Homo sapiens: one gene and its partners. The protein of the gene in region 3 interacts with the protein of the main gene of each other region in a pairwise test. Each region holds a gene or a part of one and is shown on either strand. Other genes may lie near its edges. The genes, in order: RACGAP1, TAOK2, MEGF10 and ARHGAP32.

Region 1 (8,264 bases), on a different chromosome or scaffold from region 3:
AAGAAACTTACCTCTGTAACCAATAGTTACTTCTGGAGAGTAAAATTGGAATGAGGAAGGAAATTTGACATTTAACTTTATAACACTAAAGTATTTAACTTTATTCCTGGTATTTATTACTTTCACAATTAAAAAATTAAAACACAAACAACAATCACAGATTTACCGTCTTAGAAACAAAGTCATGCAGGCGCATCCCTCCATTACTCTGTGGCGTGCCCACACTGTCTGTCTCAGTTCTTGGCTCCAGCTGCCTGCTGTTCAGGGTGGAGTCACTGTTCCAAGGTTGTAAAGTACCTAGAAAACAAGCAACTTTTAAGCTTTGTGTCTTAAGTATTTTGCTCCTTCTAAATTTTAGCTCCAATTTTAACTGGGAGATAAACAGTAATCTGTTATCATAGCCAAAAGTGAGAACTAATGGCTATGTAAAAAAACAGTTTCAAGAAAAACTAAAGTTATGCCAGTGGGCTAGCAATTCAAAGGTAAAGCATGACACAAGCAGTTCTCTGGTCCTCGGTATGCAGCAGTAAGAAACTACCCAATACATCCAATCCCCGCCTCCAGAGGGTTCTAAGAAACCAACTCTCCAAAATTTTGCTAGTTGTTTTACACAGGCCAGTTTAGTCACAAATTCAATGGACCTGTTTTCCTTCGGCTCCTGGTCCAATATGGCACAGTCTCAATAGTGGACACAGCTTCGATGGGCCCGCCATCATTGGGAACAGTCACTGTAGTTTTTGCAACTATGGATTCATTCCCCTGCAACAAAAGTAGTAATGAGGAAAGACAAACAAAGAATCTAACTTACCCTCCACTATAGGGTATTTTGGAGCAGGTAAAAAATTCCTTAGTCTTAGTCAAGACTTAAGACCCCAGTCTGATACTTTTTTTTTGAGACAGAGTTTTTCACTCTACCGCCCAGGCTGGAGAACAGTGGCGTGATCTCGGCTCACTGCAACCTCCGCCTCCCAGGTTCAAGGCATTCTCCTGCCTCAGCCTTCTGAGTAGCTGGGATTACAAGCATGCGCCACCACACCTGACTGATTTTTTTTTTTTTGAGACGGAGTCTCGCTGTGTCGCCCACGCTGGAGTACAGTGGCCCAATATCGGCTGACTGCAAGCTCCACCTCCCGGGTTCACGCCATTCTCCTGCCTCAGCCTCCCGAGTAGCTGGGACTACAGGCGTCTGCCACCATGCCCAGCTAATTTTTTGTATTTTTAGTAGAGATGGGGTTTCACTGTGTTAGCCAGGATGGTCTCAATCTCCTGACCTCGTGATCCACCCGCCTCAGCCTCCCAAAGTGCTAGGATTACAGGCGTGAGCCACCGCGCCTGGCCGACTGATTTTTGTATTTTTAGTAGAGACGGGATTTCGCCATGTTGACCAGGCTGGTCTCGAACTCCTGACCTCAGGTGATCATCCACCTGCCTAGGCCTCCCAAAGTGCAGGGATTACAGGCGTGAGCCACCACGCCTGACCTGAAACATTCTTATGTTGAAATCTGATGTTTGGCTGGGTGCAGTGGCTCATGCCTGCAATCCCAGCATTTTGGGAGGCCAAGGTGGGAAGATCACTTGAGCCCCGCAGTTCGAGTCATCCTGGGCAGCAAGGAGAGACTCCCCCTCTACTTTAAAAAGTAAAAATAAAGAAATCTCGTACCTAAGAAGATAAACATAGGTCATGGGGGTATATATTCAAGCAACTAAGACTCACTCTGACAGTTGTTTACTACATCAGAGTAATTCCATTCATAGGGATAAGGATCCTACTGCATAGAAAAACTTTAACCAAAGGCCAGGCACGGAGGCTCACGCCTGTAATCCCAGCACTTTGGGAGGCTGAGGCAGGTAGATCACCTGGTCAGGAGTTCGAGACCAGCCTGACCAATATGATGAAACCCTGTCTCTACTAAAAATACAAAAATTAGCCAGACGTGGTGGCATGCGCCTGTAATCCCAGCTACGTGGGAGGCTGAGACAAGAGAATCACTTGAACCTGGAAGGTGGAGGTTACAGTGAGCCAAGATGGTGCCATTGCACTCCAGCCTGGGCTACAAGAACAAAACTCTGTCTCAAAAAACAAACAAAAACTTTAACTAAACATCATGTCTCTCAAAACAATGCTGCAATGCTGACTCAGAGAAGTTTTAATGCTTGGGGCCAGTAATCTCTGTTACCTTGGCCTGACTATTCTTACCTGGTCTACTGCAGAGCCAATGGAACGAGTTTTCTTTACAGGTCCAGGGGGACCATCAACAAACTGTCGGCTAGTAGAGCGCTAGAAAGGAGACAAAGACCCGTAACTTTAATGCCAAGCAGATCTGAAGCACAGAAGATAAAATTATTCCATCAAACAACTTGGATACAGGTCCTGGGGATTAGGGCTACAGTAAATAACAAACAATGTGTTCTCTCTCTCTCTCTCTTTGCCTATTTCCACATGAAGAATAAGCTGTTTCAAAAGAATATGTTGTACAAAAATGCTCTCAGTGCCCTAGAAAAAATGAGCAAGCTATGGAGAAATTTAGATGACACCACCAGAAAAAGTACAGCTGTAATCCTAACTAAGGACATGAAGTCTTGGAAACACATTAAGTACCCTAAACAAGCATACACAGATAGATCTCTATATATCCCATTATATGAAGCTTATATTAGAGCACAAAAGTTCTGTGTAAAAATTCATATGACAATTCAAAACAAACTTAAGTTTATCCTTTTCCACTGTATGAATGAATTGAAATGCAGCCTAAACAGTGAAATGGACAGGATTCTGTCCTAAGTTACTACTTCAAAGAGTACCAGTACTGGTTGGGAGCAGTGGCTCACGCCTGTAATCCCAGCACTTTGGGAGGCCGAGGCAGGTGGATCACCTGAGGTCAGGAGTTCAAGACCAGCCTGGCCAACATGGTGAAACCCCGTTTCTACTAAAAATACAAAAATTAGCCAGGCATGGTGGCAGGCACCTGTATCCCAGCTGCTTGGGAGGCCGACGCAGGAGAATTGCTTGAACCCGGGAGGCGGACGTTGCGTTCAGCCGAGATCGCGCCATTGCACTCCAGCCTGGGAAATGAGCAAAACTCCGTCTCAAAAAAAAGAAAAAAAAAAAAAAAAAAGAATATCAATACTGTCCCCACAGCATGAATTCATCTGTAGTATGTGCTTAACAATGGCTAGAGCAACATGACAGGAATGCAGTATCATGGCAAAATTTCCAAAAATAACTCCATTATTACTTTGTTTTAAAAAAAGACTAAACAAATCATACATACCCTCTTTTCTCTCTTCTTCAGTTTGAAAGTCTTCACCAAAGAAGAGTCCCAATCCTGTTGACAATTACACTGTATTAATTTCTTTTTTTGGTTAGGCCATCCCTAAACCCTGTGCAAATAAATTTACAGAGAACTTTAAAGGCTTCTTCAGTCAGGCTACCTAACGTACAATTCGGGGAGGGTTAGAGAAGGGAAGGTCTCAAGTGTTGTAGCTATAGAGCTATAGTAAGTTAATGTGCTTTCTTTGAAAAATTGAAGCTATTATAATAAAATCAGGAATCAATACCACAGAGGCAAGAAGAGGTTAAAGAATCAAATTCTGCCATATTTCCAGTGGCTGATCCTTTATTTCTGATTATTTTTGTAATTAGTTTTAGAACTTACAGAATGTTAGGCACTATACTGATTGTATTAGATGTGATTCTTGCCCCCAAGGGATTGCCACTGTCTAATCAAATGCTCTGCATAATATTGCCACTTCACAAGTTCCACAGTTGCCAGGCGATGGCTCATGCCTGTAATCCCAGCACTTTGAGAGGCCAAGGTGGGCGGATCATGAGGTCAGGATATCGAGACCATCCTGGCTAACACGGTGAAACCCCGTCTCTACTAAAAAAATACAAAAAAATTAGCCAGGCGTGGTGGCGGGCGCCTGCAGTCCCAGCTACTCTGGAGGCTGAGGCAGGAGAATGGCATAAACCCGGGAGGCGGAGCTTGCAGTGAGCTGAGATTGCGCCACTGCATTCTAGCCTGGGTGACAGAGTGAGACTCTGTCTCAAAAAAAAAAAAAAAAAAAAAGTTCTACAGTTTAGGAACTTAGGCCCTAAAACGTGTCCACCACTGAAGAACTATTTGTCTTTTATTGTGGTCTCATTTCAATTCACCTATTTTAACTATTTGCATTCATTTTAGTAGTTACCTGTGATTTCCTTACTCCTGATCATCCCTGAAAACAGTATCTAGAAACAGTGGTATACAGCAAATAATAGCTTAGCTAAATAAATTTAACTTCCCCAAGTCATGGTCCAGTAATTTAGTTACTGGTTGTTTGATTCAGCTTCAGTTACAAGAAATATCGTATCATAGGTCTAGCTCAAAAATCAACTGATAATATGATCTAGTTTTATTATATATTCCAGACCTCCACTATATCATTCCCTATTTGAGAAAGGTGATGCCTAATATTTTTATCTATAAAATGGCCGTATTTTCCCTGGTCAAACACTGAATCTGAACAGAAAACTCCTAGCCATGTAACAAATAGTTGTCACCTGTTTTGCTATACCAGAAAACCAGTCACCAAAAACTTCCTGATTTGTTTTGTTTGCTAGTTTTCAGCTAGTAACAGAAAAGATGCACAAATCAATGAACTATATCAAAGACTGTATCAGGAGATGACCTTTTATGCAGAAGCATCACTGTAAGTTAAAAGAAGTGTGCCGCCCCATAAAAGCAGGGCAACAAATAGTTTAACATGTTAACCATTGTTGATGAAAGCATTATATAGTGCCTAGAAACTCTAATCACACTTTTCTGGCTGAAATCCCAGGACCTTGGTTTCCTTCTAATTGTGAAGTATGACTATGCTTTCCCCAAGAACCAAACTAATTCAGAAATAAGGCACAAGTCTATTTAAGAGCAGCAAATAAACCCTGACGACATACAGTCTTGCTAATATTTTTATTATTAGCTGGGGCTTTAATAAGTCAAAATATAATCAGTTAGTACATGTGGCACACAGAGATCTATTAAATGAACTCAACTTATGCCAAATTCTGAATTATATATTCTCACTTCAGAAACTAATATATAAGCCAGCCTCTTATAGCTCATGTGGATTTATATTTTAAATTGCTAGCTCAGAATCTATAACACATCAACTAATAAAATAGTAATATAGGATGTTCAGAAGAGAAGACAGGAGAGATATTCCTGGGGAAGCAGAGGTAAGAAAAGTAGGTAATTCTCAGAGATCAAATGTTTATTACCAGTGATTCATCAGTCTTGTCAAAGCTGATATCTGATAAAATGGAACCAGATTCATCAATGGTTGATAGTCTAGATCAGTGAAACAATACAACGTTAGACATGGTAGACTGTGGAATGTAAAATTCACCAACATTCAGAACAAGTCCTACTGGTCAGGTAACATCAGTTAATTTCATAGCAAAATCTTCACTATAGAGACAATTACAATCTCAAACCCTGTGGTAGGCTACTTTGTATGGTTTCCACGGAGGAGTGTGTGTGCATGAGTACAGGTGCAACACAGTTGCTTTTTCAGCAAAGACCTTATAAGGGCAGTTGAAAGTTAGTCAGGGTTATGGGTGCTATTCTCTACCGAGTTTGTATTACAGGCTACTCCAAATTCACAAAATCAAGGGAATGAAGTTTAATTTGATCCCAACTGTGCTGGTTTCTACAAACAAGAGTATTACCCAACACTGACTTTTTAAGAAATTAAGCCTGTACATCTTCTTAGTTATAAAGATTCCCCATAAAACAACCAGGCAACAAAATAAATAGCTGACCTTTCCCTACATATTGTACTGGGGATGTTAAATTCAAAGCCTGGTTGAGACTATTTTAAACAGTGGTGCAGTGGAACCAAAATTATTGTCTGGTCTTGGCTCACAGAGGCCTTTCTAAACCAGAAGAGCTGTAAGAGCTCTCTGGAGAGTAAACACTGAAAGTATTGCTGAACTGCCACTTTCACCTTTGGGTTTCTTAGCAATGCACAGGATTAGTTATTGATGTGCAATTTAGCACCAACATCAAAATTGTATCCATGGTGAAACAACATCCTTAGGAAAGATTTAAAAATAAAATAAAATAAAATATACAGGGACATCCCTGTGCCTTTATTCCCCACCTACTCTCCCCACAAAATCTTTTTCTGCTTTTTTCAGCACACATTCTAGAAGAAGTATATTTAAGAATTCAGATAACAAGAATATCTGACAGCCTGTGTTGCTTGTGATAGGATAACAACAGATGCAGTTCCTCCACCTTTTGTTCCCAGCATTGCTGCTGGATGGTTGGCCTCTGTTGAGAAAAGCCAGAGCTGATTTTTGCTCCTCGCTTAGTTGAATGCTGCCAGATGTGTCACACATGAGCATCTCTCGAATCAGCTGAATCTGTCGTTCCTACAGACCAAAGCAAAGTAAAACATCATAACTAGCCAGGGGAGAAAGCTTCACCTCAAGTTTATGGGACAGGCAGACCAGAAGACATTAAAATGCAGCATTATGCAAATGGACCTTCAGGAAGGCTGCTACACCAATAGCATATTAATTCACATCAAACCCAGATTGTGTCTCTGATTTCTGACTGGTAAAATGAACTACATCTAGAACAGCGAAGTTTCTGCTACAAGACTTTTGGATTAACCTGCTAATCCAAGAGGAGAATAATGCAAAATGAGAGTCCCAAAATAGATTTCACATAGCAAAAACACTTTAGTGTCATTTTATCAGGACAAATATTGGCTTCTACGGATCAAAGCAGCCACCCACCTCTCAAAGTAGTGGAGCAAAATGCATTAAAATGGATACAAAGCTATAATGCACTGGAACCAGACAATTTGAGTTTACTGAGGCATCTAACACTGTATACCAAGATGGATTAGTCCCTCCCAGTAAAGGCTTTCCTTTGCATTATGACCCATCCTGGCACATCAAAATGATAGTGTTCTGTGTCAGTCACATTGCTCAACTGGTTGAATACATCTAGCCTTTTACCCTGAATTAGAGAGGGGTGATGAAAAGAAGAGTCACAGTTGTCTTGCCTGTATGTATGACAAAGTACCAGCTACTCATGTAAGGATGGATATTCCGGGTAGCACTTAAAATAAACAATGAAGGATGGCCAATAACTTGTGACAGATCAAGTACGTTAGGATCTCCCTCCCTCCCTTTTCCTCTAATTCTTTAAGTTCTCATTTGAAATCTGTCTGTTAAGTAAGTTTCAAGTCTAAGTGACAAAAACATTTAAATTTCAAATTATGAAGAACAAGATTCCTAGTCTGCAATTTCAGCTCTAATCATGGGCAAGCTGTTAAAGAACAGGTCACTTTCAGTTCTTTAATGTGGAAGAAGAAACTAGGTATATTTGGCAAGTGGAAACTGTCAGACAATGCCTTCCCCCTCCTGCATCATCACTGTTCTAGCACGGAAAACAATACACACCAGCTTTTCGCAGTCAGCCTCAGCTCTCTGTCTCCGTTTGATCTCTACATCCACCTGATTACGTGCATGCTTCAGCTTAACATCCAGAGCACTTCGCTCAGTCTCTGCTTTCATCAAAAGATCCTTGTATTTCCCCAGCTCATGGTCAGTCCTCTGCCACTTTTTACGGAAATCCTCAAAGTCCTTCGCCAACTGGATAAATTCTGAGGAAAGGGGGAATCTTTAATAATTCAAGCACCAAACAGAGTATAACTGCTCTAATAAATGAGTCCTACGGTTAGCTTTATTTGAAATTCATAATTAAGGAACCAGCTGAACTATGGGCAAATCCAGCTGAAAATAACTAGGAGCAGATCCTGGATATGTTTGTCACTCTGATGAGAACTTTGTGGGTAGCAATTCCTATTCAATAGGCCACTTACTTTTGGCTTAGCCAGTGGCATCTGCTATGGAATATGTAACTCATTAGTCACCTGGCTCCAGATGTAACACTAACACTGAAAGCTCCTGAACAGAAGGCAATCAAAGGGGGATACCTTTGGGGCAGCTGTCATGCACCAGGACAGTTACAGCTATAAAACAAAAACAGTTTCCTTTACAGTCACGCATTGCTGCACCAGAGAGATGTTAAACAGCAAATTCAAATGTAACTGCTGTAATATGCTCCAGTAGATGTAGATTAATATTACAGATGTCTAGACCTACAATTCCATTTGGCTATATAATTATACAAATATTGATTTGAAAGTAAAAAGCCAATTTGCTTTTGCTGTTTAACACTGCCCTGAAGGGTATGTAAACATTC
Region 2 (7,277 bases), on a different chromosome or scaffold from region 3:
AGCTCAGCACCCCCTACTGTGGAGGGTCTGCAGCCCCGTCCCCCAACCCACTAGGGTAATGCCTGATGCAGGAGAGCAATTTGGTCCCCTGCAGCCATGGTTGGGAGAAAAGGCAAGGGATGAGGAGACCAAGGGCCTGGAAACTAAGACCTCTGGAAGGAACCCGCAAACAGGCGCTCTGTGGGACCAAGAAGTTCGGTGAAGTTCTACAGGGGCCCAGACCCCAGAGCCGGTGGTGGTCATGGTGCAATGAAGCTATGAAGGCAGAGAGCATGAGGCTGGAGGAGTGAGGGGGCTGAGATAACGGAGATGGGGTGAAGAGGTCATGGAGCCGGGCCGAGGGTCAGCCTGGGGGCATACCGGGGAGGCTAGGCGGCAGGACAAAGCAGACAGAGGCAGCCTGGGCCAAAGGCACAGTTCCGCTCAGATATTTTATTTGTGTTTGTCTTTTTCTTTTTTTGGTGGGGGGAAGGGGACAGGTTGGAAGGGAGACAGAAAAACAAAATCAAAGAGGAGAAAAAAAACATGACTCTTCCCACCCTCCACCACCCCTGGCCCCAGGCCTGAGTCAATGAGGGTGAGGATGAGCACACACAGCGGGCGAACAGCAATAACTTAGGGGAGGAGCGCCAGGAGAACACAGAGTGACTGCTGGACTCCACAGCTGAGGAGGCTGCCTGTCTAGAGGTCCGAAGGGCTGGGCCTGGGGTAAGTGAGCAAACTGAGGAAGGTGGGTGAAAAGAGAGGACTAGGGACTGGAGAAACTTCACTGAGTCGTGGGAGATAAAGTGCTCAATGCTCTAGATTTGGGCTGGAAGGGCTGGAGTCAGCTACCTCCAGGGGGGCAGGGCCCGGGACTGGCGGGTGCGTGACCTCCGCCCGGCTAGAGTCCCTGGCAGTGGCTGGCGGGAGGCAGGGGGCCCTAGCTGGCGCTGGCTGCGTGGTAGTAGCCGGGGGATTCGGGTGGGCCGTTCACCCCGAAGCAGGCCCCAGCTGGCCAGTGTGTGGATGGCCCACGGGGGCAAGTGGGATGCTAAACCCTGGCTGGCCCGTGCCAGACGCCAGTTCCAGCCCTTGCACAGGACCCAGACCCTTGCCAACAGAGCTAATGGGTGTTGGGTGGTGCGGGGATTACGCCGCCGGGGCCCAGGGACGGGCAGGCGGCTGCGGAAGCCATCCTTGTTGGTTTTGGGGTACAGTGCAAACAGACCCCGGTCCCCCACAGCCCCACAGCCCTGCAGGGCCCGGAAGGCCATGGGTGACAGGCGCAGCAGAACCCGCAACCAGAGTCGAGATATGCCCCGGCGCACCCGGGGGCCCTGCTGCCGCACCCATCTGCCCCCCGCTGCCATAGCCACCAGAGGTAGAGCTAGGCCTGGCCAAGCTAAGAGCCAGGCAGCTCCAAGGCCCAGGGGAACACCCATGAGGCCTCGGCGCCAGCTCAGGCCCAGGACGGCCCCCAGTGCGGTACCCTGGGCCAGGAGTAGGAAAAGACTGGAGGGCAGGTGCAGGGCTGTACAAAGGAGCAGGTAGGAGGCCCCCAGACCCACCAGCCCCACCTCAAGGGCCAGCAGCGCTGCCTGCAGGCCACCCCCACCCTGGGCTGCCAGCAATGGAAGCAGCAGCAGCAGCAGGAGGGGCAGGAGGCCAGAGGAGGACCCCACTGCAAAGGAGAGGCCGGCCAGGAGGCCATGGGACAGGAGTCCAGGGAGCTGGCTGGCAGGGCAGGGCCTCAGGTGTGTTGGAGGGGGTTCAGGAGGGATGTCGGGGGAAGGACAACCATCTCCAGGATCCCTAGGGGTCCCAATCGGAGCCCCCTCTTCCTCTTCTTCCTCCTCCTCAGGGACGGGAGTCAGTGCTGGGCCCTGGACCCAGCCAAGCTCAAACTCCTCATCCAGAAGACTCTCATCCTCCTTCCCCCACAAGCTCCATGTCCCAGCCTCCTCCTGGCCAACAATGCTCCTCTCCTGGGGTACAAGGGAGGGCACCCTAAGCTCCTCTATCTCCTCAGGCAGACCCCAAACTTCCTCATCAACCAGGCTCCCATGTTTTTGTGGACTGGGACTAGGGGCTCCTGATTCTTCCCCCAGAATCCTCTGCTGCTTGGGCTCCAAAGTGGCCCCTTCCTTTCCCAGAATCCTTCTCTCTCCAACTGCTTCCTCCTCCTCGCCAAGCATTCTTTGGTCCAGGACTGCCTCCTGGCCAGGTGAGCAGGGCTGCTGTTCTATAGGGGTGCCTGTGTTGGGTGGGCCCAGAGCCCCAGGAATGGGGAGTGGAAGGCCCGGGGGGCGCTGGCCTGCACGTACTTTGAGGCTCTTGGGCTGCTGGCGAACCTGGGCCGCATGCTTCTGCCGCAACTCTTGCTCACGCCGCTTGTTGTACTCCAGCTGGTTGCCCAGCTCCGTCTGGTGCTGCAGGCGGGTGAGCTCAGCCCGCGTGCGCTGCACGGCCTGGAGCTGCCGCAGCTCCAGCTCCCGCGTGGCCTCGTGCTGCCGAAGCAGCAGTGCACACTCCAAGTCCTTCTGGGTCTGCTTCTTGTTCAGGTCCTGAGGCAGAAGAAATGCAGGGCCCGGGGCCTGGTCAGTATCAAGGAAGTGAGAGGCCAGGGCTCCTTGGCAGAGGGAGCTGGGGATGGCGGAAGAAACACAGGGCCCAGGGCCTGGTCAGTATCAAGGAAGTGAGGGGCCAGGGCTCCTTGGCAGAGGGAGCTGGGGATGGCAGGAGATGAGGGTGTAGGGGAGGCAAGCTCCTCCCTGGCCTGGGAAAAGAGGCCTAAGGAAATTCTGGCAGGGTCTGTTGGGGATGAGAAGTAAAAGGGGCACTGAAGCAAAGCTGAACTGTAACACTCGAGGGCCAAGGAGAAAGAAGACAAGAATGAGGAAAATGGAAAAGGGTGGGTCCCTGGGATCCACGAGTGAGCGGGAGGGGAACAGAGATTGGGATGCCTACCTCCCGCAGCAGGTCCTGGTCCAGGCTGTGCCGAGCCAGCAACATCTTGCGCTTGTACTGGCGACACTGCAGCTCAAAGTACTGGCGCTGCCGCCGCAGCAGCCCTGCTTCCTCCTCCGCCTGGCACTGCTGGAGCTGCTCCTTCTGCCGCAGCAGCCACTCGGCCTTCTCCCGCTTGGGAGTGCTGGGGTTCTCCTGGAGCTCCTGGGCGAGTGCAGAGGGAAGCAGGGTCAGGACCCACCTGGCTCGCCATCGGCTCCGCCCCCAAGCAGCCCTAGCTCACCTCCTTCAGCTGTTCCTTGCGAAGTTTGTAGGTCCGCTTCTGTGCCTCCAGCAGGGCAGCCAGCTCCTTCTTCTGCTGCCCAAGGATGTGCTGCTGGAACTTCCGCTCCTCGGCCTGGGCAGCTCGTGCCTCCTTCTCACCTATGGCCTGGTGCCGCCGGGCCAGCTTTTCTGCCTCTGCCCCAAAGCCAGCCCGCTGCGCCTCAAGCTCCCGCTGCAGCCGTGCACTGTGCTCCTCCCGTTCACCCCTCAGCCGTGACTCCAGGGCCAGCAGCTGCTTCTGGTGCTGTCGTCGCATCCGCTTATAGCCGCTCAGCTGCTCCCGCAGCGCAGAGTCCTGCTCATGCTCCTGGATCTGACGGCTGACCTGGGGAAGGAGAGAGGGTGAGAGCTGGGGCTCAGCCTGGCCCCTAGTTAATTAACACAAGGGGTCTTCCGTGGGGAAGAGCATGGGTTTTCAACTCATGGGTTTCATTCTCATTTAACACCTTCCTCACACACGGCCACTCTAGCCTGTTTCCTCAACTGGATAATGGTGATATTATCTACATCACAAGTTGGTGTGGCCGAATGATAAAAGGTGGCGAGCACAGGGCCTGGCACAAAAGTAGGAACAATCCATACTAATTTGAAACAGTGAGTCAGACATACCTGGGATCAAATCCCAGCTTTGCCACTTACCAAGCATGTGATCTCAAGTAAGTTAACTTCTCAAAGCACCAGTTCCCTCATCTGTTAAATGGGGAAATAATACCTCCTCATAGGGGCTGTGGGGTAAGTTCGGACTCTATCTAATAAGTGTTGGCTTCCTTCCCCTTCAGCAAACATGGTCGGCCTATCACTCCCCAGGTATTGAGGTGGGATCGGGGCCACAAGATGCTGGAATAACAAGAACACTGGGCTTGGACACCTTCATCCAAAGTCTGATCTCAGGTCTCATTCTCAATTGACTCTATGAGTGGCTCTCAAACTAGTCCCGGCAGCCAAGCCCCTGGCAGTCAAGACCTCTCAGCACAGTACCGCACAACACCATGGGATCTGAAGAATTGTTGGAACACAACCAGCACCAAGCAGAGGCCATAAGAACATACTAGACTTAATCAGTGGCCTCTAAGGGGATTGTTGACGCTCAAATGCAGCTCAGCAGGAACGTGATCTAAAAACATAGATGAAAAACTATGTTTTATGAAAAGCCTAAACACTTTTTCCTGTGAACTGAGAAAGACTGCCATGAGTTGATTTTAGGAGAGGACTAAGGGCCTGCTTACAGGAGCAGAGAGCCACCAAAGGCACTGGGGCAAGTGGCCCCTCTGAGCCACAGGTGCCTCATTTCTCCAATGGGATCTTACCCTTCCCCTCCCAGGGGGGCTGGGAGGGTTAACACAGGCCTGTGTGTAAGCCTGAGAGCTAACTGCTGGCATGAGACAGATATCTGAACACCATCCCTGCCCTCTGGGGCACAGAATCTGGCAAACCTATCATGATGCTGTTCAGGACCACCCAAGCACAGGGCACCCCCGGCACAGGGCTCCCCAGCACTGGACACCCCCAGCACAGGGCTCCACAGGCACAGGGCTCCCCCAGCACTGGGCTTCCCCAGCACACAACTGTGAAGCATCTGACTCACCAGAGGAGCCTGGGAAGGCAACCCAGGAGATGTCAGTTAAGTCAGGCCACAAAAACGGAGTAAGAGTTTGCCAAGCTAGAAACACCCAGATTGGGCCATATGACCAAAACAGTCCACTGGGAAGAGGAGGGAAGCAGGAGGGTTAAGGGGAGCAGGCAGGAGCCAGCAACAGAAAATGAGGGTAGAATCCAGACTCAATCCCATGCCACAGGGAGGAAATCATTTCTAGACTTAAAAAGACTTAAAAAACAGACAGCGAGCAGGCTGAGTGAGGATGGCTACACTCACCAGGGAGGCGGTTCGGATGGTGGCAAAGTGGTCTCGGTTACGGCAGTAGGCCCGGCGGCGGGCGGAAGAGGTGGTGGAAGTGGGAGCTGGGGCTGCAGGCGGCTGGAGAGGGCTGGGGGTTATCTCTGGCTGGTAGGGGTCATCATATAGGTTGTCAGAGCCCTAGAGGGAGATAGAAGGAACACCCAAGGCTCAGAGGCCACTGGGTCCAAAGAGAGCTACCTGAGGACAGCCAATCAGACTCAGAGGAGTGCTGCACTTAGGGAAGGAGGGCGAAGACCCAGGCAGTTCTAGAGCAGGTGGCTCGGGTCCCCCAAGGGTGAGCTGTGTACCGGCAGCCGGTGGATAATGGAGCTGTGAGAGGTGACTGTGTGCTCCCCCTCCTGCATCATGGCCATCTCCCGGGCTTCAGGGCCTTCTTCCTCCTCCTCCTCTTCCTCCTCCTCCTCCTCCTCTTCCTCGTTGTCTGAGGCATCTGCTAGGCTGTTGACGGAGCTGCTCTGGCTGGAGGCGCTGATGGACATGCTGGGCACTGAGTGGCTACTCTCGAGGCTGGTCAGAGTCCCGGCCCGGTGCATGTAGGGCTCGGCCTCCTGCGAACAGGGCGTAGGCTGCTGGACAGGGAAGGGGAAGCCCTGGGGCATATGCATGGAGGTAGCATGGGAAGATGGTGGTGTGAGTAGGGCTGGGGAAGGGGCCAAGCAACTGCAGGGGGCAGGCACACATGGGGTATAAAGAGGGGTGTTAGGGCAAGCTGGGTCACCTCTTCCTCCTCTGGGGCCTCGGCACCAGGGCCGTTGGGTGCCTCTTGGAACAGGATCTTCTTCATCTTGCGGTACTGCAGGTTGTCCAGCTCCCGCACGGCATCCTTGGTCCTCTGGATCAGGTCCATGATGACTGTGGGTGGCCGCTCCCGGAGCACAAAGCGGTGCTGGGGGAAGAGGGCACTGAGGTCTGCTGCCAACTCCCCTTCCCCCCACAACCCACAGCCCTTGGCATTCCCTCAGGCCTGAGGCACTCTTCTGGGGCCCACGCCCACCACGGGTTGATGCTGGCCTTATCCCAAGCCCTTCTCTCACAATTTTCTGTACCACCCAGTACCTACTCCCCAGACAGACTCTTCTTCCTCTAAGCATGGCTGACAGGCAGGGACAGTCAGGAGAACTGGATTCTCGTCCAGCTCCTCTACTAAAGGGCTATGTGACCTTGGACATGTCATGAGGCCCCTCTGGGCTTCATACAGTATCCTACAATTATAAAACAAGTGGGTCCAACTACATAATCTGAAGTTTCCAACTACGGCTCCTCAGGCCCCCATGGGTCTGTGAAGGGAATGGGGCCCCTCCATTTTTGATAATTCAAAAAACACCTAAGGGAAATCATACATTTACCCATGATAAGGCTACACAGGCTTTTGGCTTGCATTACATCAGATCAGTGGGGCAACCCTGGTTATCACATGCTGACCAGAAGCTCTGGCTGGCAATTATATAAATCTTTGATTAATAAAAGAAGGGAAAACAGTTTATTACTTAATAAATTAAGGCAGTCTGGTAGACAAAATCTTGTAAAACACAGAGTCCACTAGGCATTGGGGATGGGGTGGGAATTCATCAACGAAGCTCTTGGTGGAGGAGGAACTGGGAACCACTAATTTCCCTGGGGGTTCTTGTGGCTGTAACAAGCTACAGTTCCAGGAGAATGCTAGGCCAGCAGGCCCTCACCTTCAGGAGAACCTCTGAGGTTGGTCTGTCTTGAGGGATTTTCTGAAGACAGGAGTCGACAAAATTCCGGAAGTACTCAGACCTGAAAGTCACAGGAGGGTGGGAGAGGGGTGGGGAAGGCATGAGTCAGGCATCCATACCCCATGGCCTAACGCCTGGGCCCAGATTCGGAATCTCAGTCCTCACCAGTGTCCTGACTGGAGCACGGGGGATTCGTTCTGTGCAATGTGGTATAAGGCACTCATCGCATTCATGTTAAAGAGCGGTGGTTTCCGTTCAGCTACAGAAAAAGGTGAAAGGGAAGAAGGTGAGAGGTGGCAGGGGGTAGAGGACAATGGAATGGAACTGAGACGACTTGGGTTCAAACCCCAATTCCTTGACTTCCTTGCCACATGACCTTGAGAAGT
Region 3 (8,264 bases):
TGTTGGTATCTCTGATTCCTCACCTGAAAGGGAAGGGGATCTCAAGTACAGATACCCTATATCAAAAGAGAACAAGGAAGAGCACACAGCTGTGAGCCAAGCTGACAGGGTCCAATACTAGCTCTAACATTTAACAGGCGATGAGGTCCTGTGCAAGTAACATAACCTTGTTATGACTCAGTTTCTCAACTGTAACATGCAGATGGTGATAACAATAGTACCCACCTATTAGAGTACTTGTGAGAATTAAGTTAACAGGCATAGAGCAAGAATGTAAGCTACGAGCAGGCAGAGATCCCAATCTCTTTTGATCAATTCCTGGCACATAGTAGGAACTCAATAAATGTTTGTTGAATAGATAAAGCCCTTAGGACAGTAGATAGCCCTGTACAGGTGTTAGGCATAATTCTGCTATTGTGCTTTTTGATGCAAGTTTTCAATAGAACACCTTGGCACAAACAGAGATCCGTGACTGTTTCAGGGACTGACAGGTCAAGGTGCTTCTGGGGACGTGCGTTGGGAGAACTCACCGAGCTCGTTGAGGTAGCCGCCATGTTTCCAGTCAGCCGGCAATGTCCCAGTGCAGTCCCCCACAGGGCCTCTCTTCCCAGGGTTCACATTTTTAAGATTCACAAACAGTTGATTGTTTTTTGACTGTTAAAAATATAAACAACGAAAGATTAAAAACAAAATACAATGCGGCACAGCACAGCGTTATGGACCTGGGGAAAAGTCCAGGGCACATATTGAGGACCAGTCCTTAGAGTGACCTGAGCTCAGGGGCCGAGGTGACTGCTTGTAACCTGGTGGGACTTGCAAGCTGGCAGGAGTTCATGTCCTTCAGTCCTAGCTACTCCCTCCACCACCTCAAGATCTTCATTTCACTCTGTCATCCTGTGCCAATTAGACCTTATTTGGATTTATACACATGTAACTTTGATTTGGAAAAAAAAAAAAAAAAAGAACTCTTGGTCTAAGTTCTTCCATCAAAAATTGTATGTTTGTGTGAATCACAGGTGACTCTTAGCAGTTATCCTAGGCGTAAACATGAGGATAAGATTATCTGCTTTGCCTCCTTCCCTGAATTTGTATGAGAATAAATTGATGAATGTGAAAGTCTCTGGGGTATGTGGAGTGATATTTAACCATGAAGCACTATAATTAAAATCTATAGCTGCATTAATTAAATTACAACTGGATTAACTTAATTAGCTTGATTTTTTTTCTAATAGAGCACTGGAATTAGACAACAGAGATTAGAAATATAATTTGGGTATGACTGGAAGAAAGAAATGTTTGAGACTTCAGAGCATTGTGGGGAAGACCTGGGGTGAGTTGGGTGCTATTGGAGTAGCAGCTCTGGGTTCTAGACACTCTGTCTCCAACCTCTCTGTGACTCAGTTTCCTCATCTGTAAAATCGGCATAATAATCACTCTTGATTTATAGGACTGGTGTGAAGATTAAATGAGTTTATATTTTTAAGTGATTAGAAATGCTTGGCACATAATATTAGGTTGTTGCTATGTGACCACTGTTGACCTACAAAAATAGCAATTTCATGTGGTTCAACCCAAATCAGTGCCTATTACTGTTGTTGTTACTAAAGCACAGGTGGCCAGGAACGGGTACTGGAGGACGGGCGGTCAGAAGAGACACACTTGGAGATTTTGCCCACGGCTGATTCTGCTATAGGTCTTTATGTTTTTGTTAATGTCATTATGAGTCATTATTTTAAAATCTCATGTAAAATTAGAAACGTTTTTCTAAAGCGGTGTAATGGAAACAGTACAGATTGTAGAGACAGAGAGACTTTGACTCACACAGCAGCTGCCTCACTCATTATCGGGCAGCTATGTCTGGAAGTAACTTAAACTCCCTACTACTCAGGTTTTCATCAGTAAACTTGAGATTCCCAAAGCACACTCAGAGGACTGTTTAGAGGAATAAATTAGATAATATATGTAAAGTACCTAGAACAGCCTCTGGTGAACAGCGGCCCTCAATAAATGCTGGTTCCCTTCCTCTCTCCCCAGCCCACTTCCAAAGACTTGAACCAATTCCTCTCACCTTCGTGACAGTCATCCTGTCCCTGTTGTTGACGTGAGGGGATGTGGCACACTGGGTGAGCGTGTGGTAACTGGGATTGGTGAAGTAGTGGCTATTAGCGTTTCCACCATTGCTGTGAGGAAGGGTTCCTGCAAGAAGGGAAGGAAATGGTTAAGGCAGCAGGCTCCCATAAATGTGTGTGAAAAAAGGGAATCAAAATAACAAAACAGGCCCAGCGAGGTGGCTCACGCCTGTAATCCCAGCACTTTGGGAGGCCAAGGCGGGCAGATGACGAGGTCAGGAGATCGAGACCATCCTGGCTAACACAGTAAAACCCCATCTCTACTAAAAGTACAAAAAAAATTAGCCGGGCACGGTAGCATGCGCCTGTAGTCCCAGCTACTCGGGAGGCTGAGGCAGAAGAATCGCTTGAACCCCGGAGGTAGAGGTTACAGTGAGCCGAGATCGCACCACTGCACTCCAGTCTGGTGACAGAGCGAGACTCCATCTCTAAATAAAAAAACAAATAAATAAATAACTGAACAAATGTCCGGACTCCTTCCATATCACAAGCTGGGCAGAATCTCCTCCTGCCCAGCCTACTCAGCAAAGCTTCTAGAAGCAACAGGCCTCTACCTTCCTAACTGCCTCCTTGGAAAAGTATGAAAGCTTGTGAACAAATGTGAAACTGAAAGAACCAATTATTTAAGATCCATAGGAGTGGCTGCCTAGGCCTAAATTTAAAATCGAGTCAAGCAGGCCTTTGCTGACTAAGGATCACACCTGTACTCTGAGTTCCCTGAAAACCCAGCTTTTTATCTTTGGGTCTTTCAGAGCTCAGCTGAACCAACCAATCAGAGCTTACCTGCCTTAGCTAATCAGGGCTTAGCTTTATCAAAGGATCAGGGTTCCGCTGTGTCAACCAACCAGAACTCAGCTGCACTGATCAATTAGAATTAAACCAGTTTCAATCCTTCACTTTCCTAAAAGGGCCTGATTGGAAGCTGGGTGGGGACTTTTGCTATAAAACCCAAGCCTTCCCTTTGTTCTCTGAACTGCACTTTCATTTTACACTGGCTGCAACTCCTGGGTTTGCAAACCGTTCACTGGAATAAAATCTCTTTCCCCCAAATTCCTTTTCAGAGAACTTTTGTTCACAGTATCCACAGATAACTGCTCTTTGCTTTGGGGCTGGTACAGCTGGGAAGGTATCATTTGAAGCTACTCTGCAACTTTCCTTTTTTTAAACACTTGAGTTCTTGACACAATAATTCTGCACTGAAAATGCACTACTATGTAAATCAGCTACTTCTCATATTTCCACGGAATTTTGTAGTTTTAAACATGTAACCAACCAGAAGGCCTTCAATAATCACCCAAAAAGTAATAAAGATTTTAAACTTTTAAATTCCTCCATGTAAATGGTTGCTTCTACTGATGATTGATTATAATTTTATTTTTCCTTTTATGAGGCATTGTGACAGAACAGAAAAAATCAAGAGTTTTCTTAAAGGGCTGCCTTGGTTCTTGCTAATACCAAAAAGCTGTTTCTGATATAACTTTGTTCCCTTCAGTTAACGATTCGGGTAGGCCTAGGGAGAGGCTGGGAAGCACATAGAAAGTACCCTCATTCAGAGACAGGAGAACTGGTCCCTAATCTGATCCATGACCTTGGTAAACTTATCATCCTCTCTTCCTCCTCACCCCCCTCACATATGACAAAAGCTTGAGGCTGGATACAAAGCTCCTTATGGATTGAAATTCCCTAAATCTAAACCACAAACACAATGAGCTCAATTTTAAAACCCTTATAGCAAACCACAGAATGACAATTTACTATTGTTGAAATAAAAAACTCATCTCTAGCAATGTATACCTTTTCCAAACATAGAATTCTCTCAATGAGAATTGACAGAAACAATGGACAGCACAGCCAAACACCCAGTTTTAAAGAACCCGAATGAAATTTAACTTTTCAAGAAGCAAAATGCCTCTCCTGCCTCTGCTCTTACCTGAAATGGTATAATCTGCATTGACGACCCTCATAGCAGGGGTGTAGGTAACTGCTGGCATGCTTGATTCCTTTCCCTTCTGCTTGTGTCTATAAATAATGAACAATGCCAGTAGGAAGAGAACAACTAGGACAAGAATGATGATGCCTGCAATGGCCCCGATCTGGTAGGAATCAGCAGGGAGAGCAGTACTGGTTCGGCTTAAGCTGTTCAGATTTCCAACTATGATAACACCAGCTAGAAAAAGAAGAGAGACTTGAGAAAGGATGACAATGTGCTGGATAAACGTTTGATCTCTACTTACAAAAACCTCCTTCTGTGCTAATGCCTGCATATTTTCAGTTCATAAAACATTAATTTGGAAACAGAGCAGGAAGAAAAAGCAAACATTCCTCATTGTCAGATGTTGTCGGCCTATCCATGCCCAGAGAAAGGCTGCTGTAAGCCTCAAAAAGAGACAGAAGCTGGGCACAGTGATGCGTGCCCGGAGTTCCAGCTACTCAGGAGACTGAGGCGGGAGAACTGATCTAGCCTAGCAGTTAGAGACCAGCCTGGCCAACATAGCAAGACCCTGTCCCTAAAAAAATATAAAGAAAGAGACAGGATTTTCTGAACCCAAAGAGATTCAACAGTAGGATTTGAGAGCTTCTTATATATTTCCGATTAAATACTTAGACTGGCAATTAATTTGGGGTAACAATTTATCTAATTTTTATTTTGCTTTATTTATTATTCAATACTGAGCTTATGCAGAGTTAAATGCTAAATGTCCCAACTGCTTAACCAAATTTTATGTCTATCCTTAGCATTTCTAAGAGTAATTTTCCTTCCAAGCAAGCATAACACCATTATAAATCTAGTCTAAGAACAGGATCTACCTTTTGCTAATTTCAATGGGTCTTTTACCTCAGAAGATATTGTTCTGTGCAAAGTTATTTTCCATGACAGAAAGATTTGTCCTGATAATACCTGATAGCATTACCCTAATACCTTACTCATTAAATTCAAAATTGGGCATTACATAGTTCTTCCTTATGGTCCGTCAAGTGATAACGCTAAAGGCATGGGTTGAGATTCAAGAAATCTGGCATCTAAAAAAATTGACCTAGATATTCTGAACTTTCACTTAAGCTTTCAGGCTGCAGTTTTATCATCTATAAATGAGAAAAGAGGCCTCCATGTCACTGCTTCCAGCTCAAGTAAATGTTCCTATGATTTTATGATTCTAAATGCTGAAGGACCTTTTTACAAAACAATCTGCCCTGAAACACAGACCACCAAGGATAATGTAGTGAGATTACAGAGTATTTGTAATTATGACGTGATAATGAAAGATCACATTCTATTGTTATGACAGTCAAATGTAAATCATAAGCATGTAAAAGTCATTTTACCAAAGAAATTAAATGTTGTAAATATTTACATGGTCTGCAGTTTAAGATTACTCCATCTACAACAGTGTATCAATTTTCTAAAGCCTTTTATAGCCCAACTGCTTATTGCCTACCAGGGAGTACCACATGCAGTAAGAGCTGTGGCTCTCTGGAGGGCATGCTTCAGAACCATCAGAAGCACTTTCTCAAAGTCCCCAACCCTGGAATCGGAATTTCCCAAATAGGACCATGTACCTGACAACTATTCCCAGGTCGTTATGACATACACCCCAATTGAAAACCAGGGGCACAAGTTTTACAAAAAGTTAAACATATGTCTACTATATACCCCAATTATTCTACTCCTAGGTATTTACCCAAGAGAAATGAAAGCACATGTCCATGCAAAAACTGGATTCACTCTTGTTCATAGCAGCTTTATCTGTAATAGCCCCAAACTGGAAACAATCCACCTGTCCATCAGCACATGAACAGGTAAACAAATTATAGTATATCCATACAATGGAATAGTATTCAGCAATGAAAAGAACTGAATTGTTGATATGTGCTACAACATGGTTCCATTTCAAAATAATTATGCTGAGTAAACAAAGCCAGACCCAAAAGAGTACAGTATGATTTCATTTATATAAAATTCTAGAAAATGAAAACTAATCTATACTGACAGAAAAGAGATGAGTGATTACCTGGGGCTTAAGGGGTGGTAGAAGTAGGGAGGGGCATGAGGAAACACATGGTGATGGATATTTCATTTATTATGGTGATGGTTTCATAGGTATATAGATAGTCGAGATTTTATTAAATTGTACACATTAAATAGGTGTGTTTTTTGTGTATCAATTACACCTCAATAAAGCTGAAAAAAAATCATAGACCCAGTAGAAAGTTCATGAGTTTTGGAATAACAAAAATCTGGCACAAAAGCTGTGACATATTCTAGTATTAGCTATGTGACTTTGGGAAAATTACTCAGCCTCTCTAAGCTTTTGTTTCTTTATCTGCAGGACAGCAACAATAAGGCATTCATCTGGCAATTAAATAAGTAACCAATTATGCCATTTAGAGTTGTGGTGAAGATTCTGCTGGATAACATAAGTGAAAATACTTCACATTGCCTGGTACATGGTGTTCACACAATACTGCAGTGCTACAAACATTAGCTAGTATATTTACCTTGATCACATCTCGCTCCCTTCCATCCGGGGCTGCAGTAACAGGTCCCAGTGATGTGGTCGCAGGTGGAGTTGTTCAGACAATCACATATCTGGCGACAGCCATAGCCATATGTTCCTGAAGGGCACTCTAGAGAAGGAAAGTCAAATGTAGCTTTCCAACCTTGGGAATTTGGAGCAAGGCTGTCTCTGACTGCAAGCCCTGCACATCTAGAGCTGAGTCCTTTCAGGGGATTCCTATTGAGGCTGACTTGTACCCCCAAGAGTGTCCCAGAACTGGACAGCATTCCTGGAATCATGGTGGCACTCACAGTCCAGACTGCACAGGGCTAGAGACAGGGCTGCTCAACATTAGAGCTCCTGACACTTTCAGCTGCTACATACTTACCTCTATGATGTGTATATGGAGAGTCTGTGGAATTCCCATGGAACAGATGAAGATAATCACTAAGGGCAATTTGATACAAGTCCACCAGGCAAAACTGTAGGCTGGAAGGGGCCTAGACTGAAGAGCACTAAAGATGCTTTCTTGAGAACATATATATTTTACTGTAGGCTCAGGGATCTTCATAAACGCACATTCTCAATTGAATTAGCCAGGAATAGGGGAAGATGCAAACAACAAGTTTTGCTGATTTTCTAGGTAAGAACTTCATTTGCTATGGAGTGATTCAAACTCTGGATTTTGTTGAAGTCTTGAAGACGAAAGTAATAGGATTCTTACTATGCGGTCTTAATAAGAGTTAGGCATGAATTTCAAAGGATAGTGTAAGCATGTTAAATCTAAAAATCTTCGTGACAAAATATTGATATTTTTCATAAAGTGAGCAGCAGGGGGCAATGTGCTATTATTATTAGAACTCTCTGTCAAACACAGGGTTTCTGTTTACAAATAAGCATTGGGAGAAGTCTCCAAAAATAGGGACACTTTAATTTGCTGTTGAGAGTAATCATGGAAGCACTTAAGAGGTTTTCTTATTTAATAAGACCTTAACCAGTCATCTGGCATTCAAGTAAAATTTTGAGCCTATTCTGGTTTCCATGCATATTTAGACATTTATACACAAACACACAATATTTATATGCACAATAGAGTTATGTATGCAACTGTGTCACTCAGTCAGGATCTGTTTTCATGACTCAATGAAACAGTGATGCAAAACTAAAATTGGGCTGTCTCTGTTGTGAGCTGATTCCTGGACGTCACTTTTGTTATATTTGCTAGAAAGAGGATATGCAAAAATACCCTAGGGTTTAGCACATAAAATTGAGGCAACCAGGTTCAGAGTGGCTCTGTGAGGTGCCAGTGGAGTGGGGTGGGGAGGGGTGCTTTATTGTCAGAGTCCTGCTATCCTGATCAATCTTTCCAGGCCACACCACTCCTATGGCCATAATCTTGGCAGATCCTTCCCAAGAGTACAACCTCTGGTGAACAGGAATTGTTCTTCACCTTTTCCCGCCCAAAAGGTTTTATCATAAGAAAGTGGGTCTGATACAGCCCTAAGCCCTTATTTATTTATCGTGAATACTGAAAGAAAGTCATAGAGGAAAGGAATAATAAACTAATTTGCAATATTCAATTTTATTAAGACTAATGTTTTTATAACTCTGTGAGGGGATGCATAGCTAGTGGGGTGGA
Region 4 (8,264 bases), on a different chromosome or scaffold from region 3:
AAGGGCTGCCAACCATAATACCTAAGTAACCTACTGCTGTATTTTTTACCAGAGTTTTCTGTAAAACATCTTCAGACTTAAACCTGAATGCATTCAATGAAAATGAAAAATAGGAGAGAAAACTACTTCCCCCAAATTGAAAGATTATGGGAACCAGCCTTATCATCTTGCTGTTTCCCTCACTAAGAAATTATGTAAATATCTGTCACATATTCACTTTATTTGTATGAGATTCTTGCTCATAACTTATGAAAAATTACACTTGACAATGTTGAAGTTCCACAGAGAAGTCCAAGCGGATTTCCTTCTCAAGACAAATATAGCATATTACCCAGGAACTGCACCTCAGGGACTGTTCACTCCCAGGAATATCTTTTCTTCATCCCTGGAATAAATTCCAAGCAGGATATCTTTCTCTTTCTATTCTTCCGATCGGTTTTTGTTTATTTCTTATTCTTCGCCAAATTTGGTTCTGGCTCTGCAACAGTTGTCGCCAGTTACTATCCACTGGTGGCAACAATGGCTGGAAGTCCATTTTATGGTCAGACCATTTGATATCTACTCTCTATTAGCAACAGAGAATTTGGTTTGTTAGTCAATTTTTGTCTGTCTGTGTACAAATATGCCTCAATTCCACTGGAGAGAACAGCTCTTTGAGATATGTCCGAAGTGCTCAGTTTGGTGTTCTCTATTCATTTTACCCACGGCTGATGATATAAATCTGAGACTACCAGCGTTCTGTGTGCCTGGAACTGATAAAAGTCATTATCTGCTTATCATAGGGTGCAATAAATTTTCCTACTTTTCAAAGGATATTAATAAATTAAATTGTAAAGCCTCTTAAAATACAGGAACTCTGTTCTGGTTAGCCTATGTGGACTAATAATCACTTACATAAATCTAATATTCCCAGAATTCCTAAAAAATAAAGAAACTAACCCTCTAACACCGATGAGGACAGTTACATTGGTGGTGACTATGGAACAGAGGTTTGCTGAAGCCAGTTGGAATTCAGTTTTGGTCACTTCCCACTCAAAATGTCTTATATACTATAATTCTTCATATGTATTACAATTGAACCATACACAAATCAAAAAGGCATATAAAGAAAAATTATTCCCATCCCTGTCTCCAATCTGCCCAATTCCAACCCATTAAATTCTCTACCTGCCAAGGTAATCAATTTCCAATAGAGTCTTCTAAACTTTATTACTATAGCTGCATATATTCACACATAAATTATTCATATGTATGAAAAAATACAGCCACACAGAGTATAAAAGCAATGTGTAAATATGCTGCTTCTTAGTAGGTTTACACATTGTTGTATACCTTGTTTTCCTCTAACTTTTCCTGGAGACTTTCCATATCAATACATAGAACTTCTTTGCTGTTTTTACAACTATATAATGTTCCCCTGTGTAGCTATTCCTTAATTTATTTAACTAATCCCCTACTGATGAGTACTTGAATAAATTCTTTCCAATCTACTGCTATTACAAACAATGCTACAATAAGTTTGTGCATTTATATGTCATTCTATATATGTACAAATATATCTGAAAAACAAATTTTCTACAGTAAAAAAAATATTTTTATATATTAGCCCATTTTTCTATTGGGTTGTTGGACTTTTTCTTAACCATTTTTAGTTCTTTGTATATCAAGGAGATTAATCCTTCATCTGTAATATGAGTTTCAGGTATTTTTCCCAGGTCGTCATATGTCCTTGCTTACTTTGTTTTTTGTAATGCAGATGTTTTATATATTGTAATGTAGATATTTTATGTAATGTAGATGTTTTTTGTTTTATGTAGCCTCATTTCTCAACCCTTTCCTTCATGGCTTTTTCTTTTACTGCTTTAAATCATAGTTCAAAATGCCTTCCTATTATAAAAAAAAATTGTGTTAATTCTCTATGTTTTCTATTACCTTTTTTTTTTTTCTGGAGACAGGGTCTCGCTCTATTTCCAGGGCTGGAGGGCGGTGGTGTAATCGTAGCTTACTATAGCCTCAAACTCCTGGGCTCAAGAGATCCTCCCACTTCAGTCTCCTGAGTACCTGGGACTACAGGCAGGTACCACCATGCCAGGCTAAGTTTTTTATTTTTCTTTTGTAGTGACGGGGTCTTGCTATGTTGACTAGGCTGGTTTCAAACTCCTGGCCTCAAGGGATCCTGCCACTTTAGCCTCCCAAAATGCTGGGATTACAGACATGAGTCACTGCACCCGGCCTTAAAAAATTTTTTATGTTTTCATTTAGTACATTTAAATCTTTGATCATTTGTAATTCATCCTTGGTATGAGGTAGGATTCCTATTTTCTTTACTTCCACAGGTGAATATTCAGTTTCTCCAAAACTATTTACTGAATAGTACATATCATCTCCATTAGCTTTTGAGAAGCCATCTTTACCATACCTAAATATTCCTATGAACGTGGGTATATTTTCTAGGATTTCCATTCTACCCCATAATACTTCTCTTCATGTCCCACAACCAATGGGTTTTAATTACTGAGACTAAGACTTCACAATACAACATCTAGTTGCAAAAGTCCTCTATATCCACTACCCTTGTTCTTTTTCTTTTTCCTACAAAGTTTCTTGGTTAAATTATTTAGCCAAGATCAATTTATTTAGTTTTTTAAAAAGGATTCTTATCATCACATTAAATTTATAAATTACCTTAAACTAACATCTTTATGGTGCTGTGTATTTCCAGTTATGAAGAAGACATATTCTTCAATTGTTCCAAACTTCTTTTATGTTCTTCAATGATGTTTTACATTTTTATCATGTAGGTTTTAGAGTTTGTTGTTAAGTTTATTTCTGGTATCTCATCTTTGTTGCTCCTGAAAGTGGCACTTTTTCTTCCATTGTATCTTCTAACTAGTTATTGTTTGATATACTATTTTAAGCCCTGTTTTGCAGATAGGAAAAGTGGAATGCTTGACCATATCTTCATCATTCCTGATGTGGTAAACTATTTTTTTCTGGAAGACCCCACCTGCCAGCTGAAGAAGACACTGAAGCAGCCATTCACACTCCTAAGACCCACCAAATTGCATGAAAGGCACCACGATTCTGCCTCAGTGAATGTTCCCTGCAGAAAAGTTTCCTCTCAAAACCTATGAAAAAAACTTCCCAGTGGACTTCCAATCCTAGACTGCATATATGTGAGGAAGCAAATCTCTCCTTCTCCAAGTGTCTCAAAAATCATTAAGTTAAATAGGAAAAAATAAATCCTTAACAGAATGGTATGAATGGCACCAGAAGGCCAGAGATCAGACTTTGATACACTTCTGAAAGACTAAAAGACTGAAAAACTTAAAAGCAAGTGGTATCATACTGACCTAAAGAGAAAAACAGAAGTTCAAAGGCTATACCCCACCCCTTTCCACAACAAGAGAGATGCTTGCCCCCAGGGTACTAACAAAAACTGGAAAATTACCCTGTAAAGTAATTTAACAACTGACCAGAAGGACTAGGGCTCCTAATGTGGGTGTGTGCACCTAAGACAAGCAAGGCAGAGCCATATGCATCATGGGGGCTACTGAAGAAAACACAGCAGGGGAAAGGGCAAAGAAGCGCAGATACTTTGCTTAGCAGCTAAAAGATAGGTTCTGAACAGTCAGAATAAAACAGAACATGTACACTGAATGAATAAAGCTCCAAAGCTCAAAAAGAAAGAAAATAACCTAAATTTATTATAAAAATACCTTGTGTGTATGTATCTATACGTGAAGAACCCTTAAAAATAATTTATCTACTCAAATTGAATTTGAACAATTAAAAAAGAAGATGAAATTAGCTAAGAGAACAAGTACAAAAAAACTTCAATTCACAAAGTAAAATGTAAAAAGAAATATATCATAAAATAAAAGATTAAGGGGACTTAATAGAGGCAAAGGCAATAATAGGAAACAAAAAAATTTCTTCCCTAACACAAAGGTTTGACTCTGTAGACTGAAAGTCACTAAGTTCCAAAATAAAGAACTCACTAAGCTCCAAACTAAAGAACGGGTAACAAAATATACATAACAATAAAAAAGAAACTCTTAACAAGTAGTCTGGCAAAAAGAACATGTTACCTACAAAGGAAAAGAAAAAAACAGATTGGCATTTGAGCTTATACAAGAAATCAGAGAATATCACCCAGAGAACTTAACTGAACAAAAATACTTAAGAACGTATCAGGCAAATACAAATGATCCAAAACTGATACATTAAGATAGAATGTGATACAGAGAAGAAGCAACATAAACACTAAACAATGACACACTGTTGGTGGGACTGTAAACTAGTTCAACCACTGTGGAAGTAGGTGTGGCAATTCCTCAGGGATCTAGAACTAGAAATACCATTTGACCCAGCCATCCCATTACTGGGTAGATACCCAAAGGATTATAAATCATGCTGCTATAAAGACACATGCACACGTATGTTTATTGTGGCATTATTCACAATAGCAAAGACTTGGAACCAACCCAAATGTCCAACAATGATATACTGGATTAAGAAAATGTGGCACATATACACCACGGAATACTATGCAGCCATAAAAAATGATGAGGTCATGTCCTTTGTAGGGACATGGATGAAGCTGGAAACTATCATTCTCAGCAAACTATCACAAGGACAAAAAACCAAACACCACATGTTCTTACTCATAGGTGGGAATTGAACAATGAGAACACTTGGACACAGGAAGGGGAACATCACACACCAGGGACTGTTGTGGGGTGAGGGGAGAGGAGAGGGATAGCATTAGGAGATATACCTAATGTAAATGACGAGTTACTGGGTGTAGCACACCAACATGGCACATGTATACATATGTAACAAACCTGCACGTTGTGCACATGTACCCTAAAACTTAAAGTATAATAATAATAAAAAAATGACACAAATAATTAAATCTGAATGAAAAGCAAAAAACATTAAACTGACGGAGGCAGAATGGGTGAATAAAAGAGTTTCAAAAGTCTCATCTAGAAGTATGAGACTGAGAGAAGGAGGAAGTTAAAGTTTCCTAAAGATCTTATTTTATAAGGAAGAGAAGTAGAGGAGAAGAGAGAACCATGATTTAAAACACAAACATACATACACAGAAAGAGAGAGAGAAAACCTGGGTGAAAGAAATCATTTTATTTTCAAATAGAGAAAATACATGTATGATTATGAGAACATGGAAATGGAAACTAATCATTAATGTAAAGAAAAGTATAGCGCAACTTCCAAAATTAAGTATCTGGGAAGGTTTTGCCTGCTCTGAATATCATCTTGCTAAGCTAGTCACTTGACATATTTAATTTAAAAAAAAAGAAAATTAACTAATTTATAAATAGAGCTTTAAATGTTTCAGGGATTTCAATTTATTTTTGAAAGTCCTATTGACTATTTAAGAGAGTTCAGTGCCAAAGTGAAATGCAAGAGTTAGAAAAATTAGGTTTGGGTTTAAACTTTTTAACTTCAATTAAACAACCTAATAACCAGGAACTTTTATACAGGTCTATATCGTTTGTGTACTCTAGGGCCTTTCTTGAACATCAAAATACTCATACAGATAGATACAAGAAAGGCCCACCTTGGACTCCATCCCAAAGGGCTTAATTACTAAAATACCAAGAAAGTCTTGTACTGGCATGCCTCACGGTTAAGACAGATTCATTTCACAGATTATGAAGACAGCCTAATGGCTAGACTCCATTACTGCCTAAAATGTTCTGAGATTAAGGGATGTTCATATCAGACTTTGCTGATTACTATTAAATTCACTGATGAGAGTATGTTGGGTGAATGTTATACTTACTGTTAAAAGAATATTTTAGAAGCTTCTACACAGCAAAGAAAACAATCAACAAAGTGAAGAGACAACCCACAGCAAGGGAGAAAATATTTGCAAAAAGGGATTAATTACCAGAATATATAAGGAGCCCAAACAACTCTATAGGAAAAAATGTAATAATCCGATTTAAAAATGGGCAAAAGATTTGAACAGGCATTTCTCAAAAGACGGCAACAAATGGCAAACAAGCGTAGGAAAAAGTGCTCAACATCACTGATCATCAGAGAAATGCAAATCAAAACTACAGTGAGAGATCATCTCACCCCAGTTAAAATGGCTTATATCCAAAAGAAAGGCAATAACAAATGCCGGCAACAATGTGGAGAAATGGGAACCCTCACACATTGTTGGCAGGAATGTAAATTAGGCAACTACTATGAAGAAAAGTTTGGAAGTTCCTCAAAAAAACTAAAAATAGAGCTACCATATGATCTAGCCATCCCACTGTTGGACATATACCCAAATGAAAGGAAATCAGTCTACTGAAGAGGTATCTGCACTCCCATATTTGTTGCAGCACTGTTCACAATAGCCAAGATCTGAAAGCAACCTAAGTGTCCATCAATGGATGAATGGATAAAGAAAATGTGGTACTTATACCCAATGGAATACTATTCAGTCATAAAAAATAATGAGATTTAGTCATTTGCAACAACATGGTTGGAGCTAGAGGTCATTATGTTAAGTGAAATAAGCCAGGCACGGAAAGACAAACATCACATGTTCTCACTTATTTGTGTGATCTAAAAATCAAAACAATTAAACTCATGGACACAGAGAGTAGAAGGATGGTTACCAGAGGCTGGGAAGGGTGGTGGGGGCATAGTGGGAGGCTGGTGGGGATAGTTAATGGGTCCAAAAAGTAGTTAGAATAAATGAATAAGGCCTAGTATTTGATAGCACAATAGGGTGACTATAGTCAATAATAATTTAATTGTACACTGAAAAATAATTAAAAGAGTATAATTGGATTGTTTATAAAACAAAGGGTAAATGCTTGAGGGGATGGATATCCCATCATGAGGGGATGGTTACCCCATCTTCCATGATATGATTATTACACATTGTGTGCCTATATCAAAACATCTCATGTACCCCATAAAAATATATACCCACTATGAACCCCCTAAAATTAAAAATAATTTTTTAAAATAATATTTTAGGGGCTAAACTAAATCCCAGATGTTTCTTCAAGGTTACAAAACAATATAAGTTGTAGCTTTTTGGGCAAAATATACATCTTTTTTGACATCATAAGTAATAGGTTATTAAAGATGTGGTGCCTTTGAAAAGCCACACAGTATAAAATGGGCCTGGGTGTGATATGGTATTTATGGACATACAGTTAATTGGGTTTTTTTGTTTTGGTTTTTTTGTGTGGTTTTTTTGTTTGTTGAGGTTTGTTTGTTTTTGAGATGGAGTCTCATTTTGTCACCCAGGCTGGAATGCAGTGCCGTAATCTCAGCTCACTGCAATCTCTACCTCCCAGGTTCAAGCAATTCTCCTGCCTCAGCCTCCCAAATAGCTGGGATTACAGGAACCCGCCACCACACCCAGCTAATTTTTGTATTTTTAGTAGAGACAGGGTTTCACCATGTTGGCCAGGCTGATCTCAAACTCCTGACCTCAGGTGATCTGCCTGCCTCAGCCTCCCAAAGTGCTGGGATTACAGGTGTGAGCCACCATGCCCAGCCTCAGTTAATTGTTAATACTACCTCTCTGTACTTCCAGGATCATTAAAACTGGCTGGGAAGCCTGAAATCAAGAATTTCTGCAGAAGATAAAAGAACAGGCAGAGTAATAAAAACAGAAAATCTTGAAATTGTTTTATGGGCTTCCAGGGGAAATGAGCCATTAAAAGAAATCATCTAGATCTGATCTGATCGCCTGGGCCTGGGAGTTCAAAGCTGTTTTGAGCCTAGAAGATGTACAATACCACAGTCAAGACCCTTACTACCTACTTAGACTGCCACAATAGCTTCTAACTTGTGGCATCCTTCCAAATAAGATAACTGGTCCACGGTCCAGGGGTTGGGAACCCCTGAGGTAGAGGATGAATAATGCAACCAACCAACGAGTCAAGTGCATGAAGTATCATTAGTTCTATAATGCTATAAATCAATAAAGGCATTGTCCCCCCCAATTAAAATATGTTCACCAAATCATCCAGTTTAACTAAAGTCAGAACTTTCTCGTCACTTAAAATGAATTGCCTTAATAATGGAGATATACGTGAAGATCAGCGATCTGGGCATCTACAGATCGTGATCAAAAATATGGTTCAATTAAGCACTATATCATCTCTGTAGCTGCTTCAAATTATATGTCATATTTGCCAGGCTGTCTATCAGCCCATAACGTGGTATTAGGGAAGTCTAAACAAAATCATATGATAAACATTTCTACCTTCAAATGC

Evidence for each region.
Region 1: the proteins of MEGF10 (region 3) and RACGAP1 interact in a two-hybrid assay, tested with the Homo sapiens proteins (one large-scale study listed by IntAct).
Region 2: the proteins of MEGF10 (region 3) and TAOK2 interact in a two-hybrid assay, tested with the Homo sapiens proteins (one large-scale study listed by IntAct).
Region 4: the proteins of MEGF10 (region 3) and ARHGAP32 interact in a two-hybrid assay, tested with the Homo sapiens proteins (one large-scale study listed by IntAct).

The regions. Positions count from the first base shown.
Region 1 is NC_000012.12:49,998,975-50,007,238, forward strand, and holds part of RACGAP1 (rac GTPase-activating protein 1), read right to left. Parts: intron 7,663-8,264; coding exon 7,460-7,662; intron 6,419-7,459; coding exon 6,282-6,418; intron 5,331-6,281; coding exon 5,261-5,330; intron 3,327-5,260; coding exon 3,273-3,326; intron 2,279-3,272; coding exon 2,198-2,278; intron 760-2,197; coding exon 642-759; intron 298-641; coding exon 167-297; intron 1-166.
Region 2 is NC_000016.10:29,981,534-29,988,810, reverse strand, and holds the end of TAOK2 (serine/threonine-protein kinase TAO2), read right to left. Parts: intron 7,151-7,277; coding exon 7,057-7,150; intron 6,953-7,056; coding exon 6,871-6,952; intron 6,078-6,870; coding exon 5,910-6,077; intron 5,761-5,909; coding exon of another isoform or gene 5,740-5,760; coding exon 5,479-5,739; intron 5,309-5,478; coding exon 5,147-5,308; intron 3,599-5,146; coding exon 3,233-3,598; intron 3,154-3,232; coding exon 2,950-3,153; intron 2,547-2,949; coding exon 831-2,546; 3' UTR 453-830; downstream 1-452. UniProt on the Homo sapiens protein: Serine/threonine-protein kinase involved in different processes such as membrane blebbing and apoptotic bodies formation DNA damage response and MAPK14/p38 MAPK stress-activated MAPK cascade.
Region 3 is NC_000005.10:127,441,489-127,449,752, reverse strand, and holds part of MEGF10 (multiple epidermal growth factor-like domains protein 10 isoform a precursor), read right to left. Parts: intron 6,756-8,264; coding exon 6,627-6,755; intron 4,297-6,626; coding exon 4,060-4,296; intron 2,197-4,059; coding exon 2,069-2,196; intron 655-2,068; coding exon 531-654; intron 1-530. UniProt on the Homo sapiens protein: Membrane receptor involved in phagocytosis by macrophages and astrocytes of apoptotic cells. Receptor for C1q, an eat-me signal, that binds phosphatidylserine expressed on the surface of apoptotic cells. Cooperates with ABCA1 within the process of engulfment.
Region 4 is NC_000011.10:129,180,714-129,188,977, forward strand, and holds part of ARHGAP32 (rho GTPase-activating protein 32), read right to left. Parts: intron 1-8,264. UniProt on the Homo sapiens protein: GTPase-activating protein (GAP) promoting GTP hydrolysis on RHOA, CDC42 and RAC1 small GTPases. May be involved in the differentiation of neuronal cells during the formation of neurite extensions.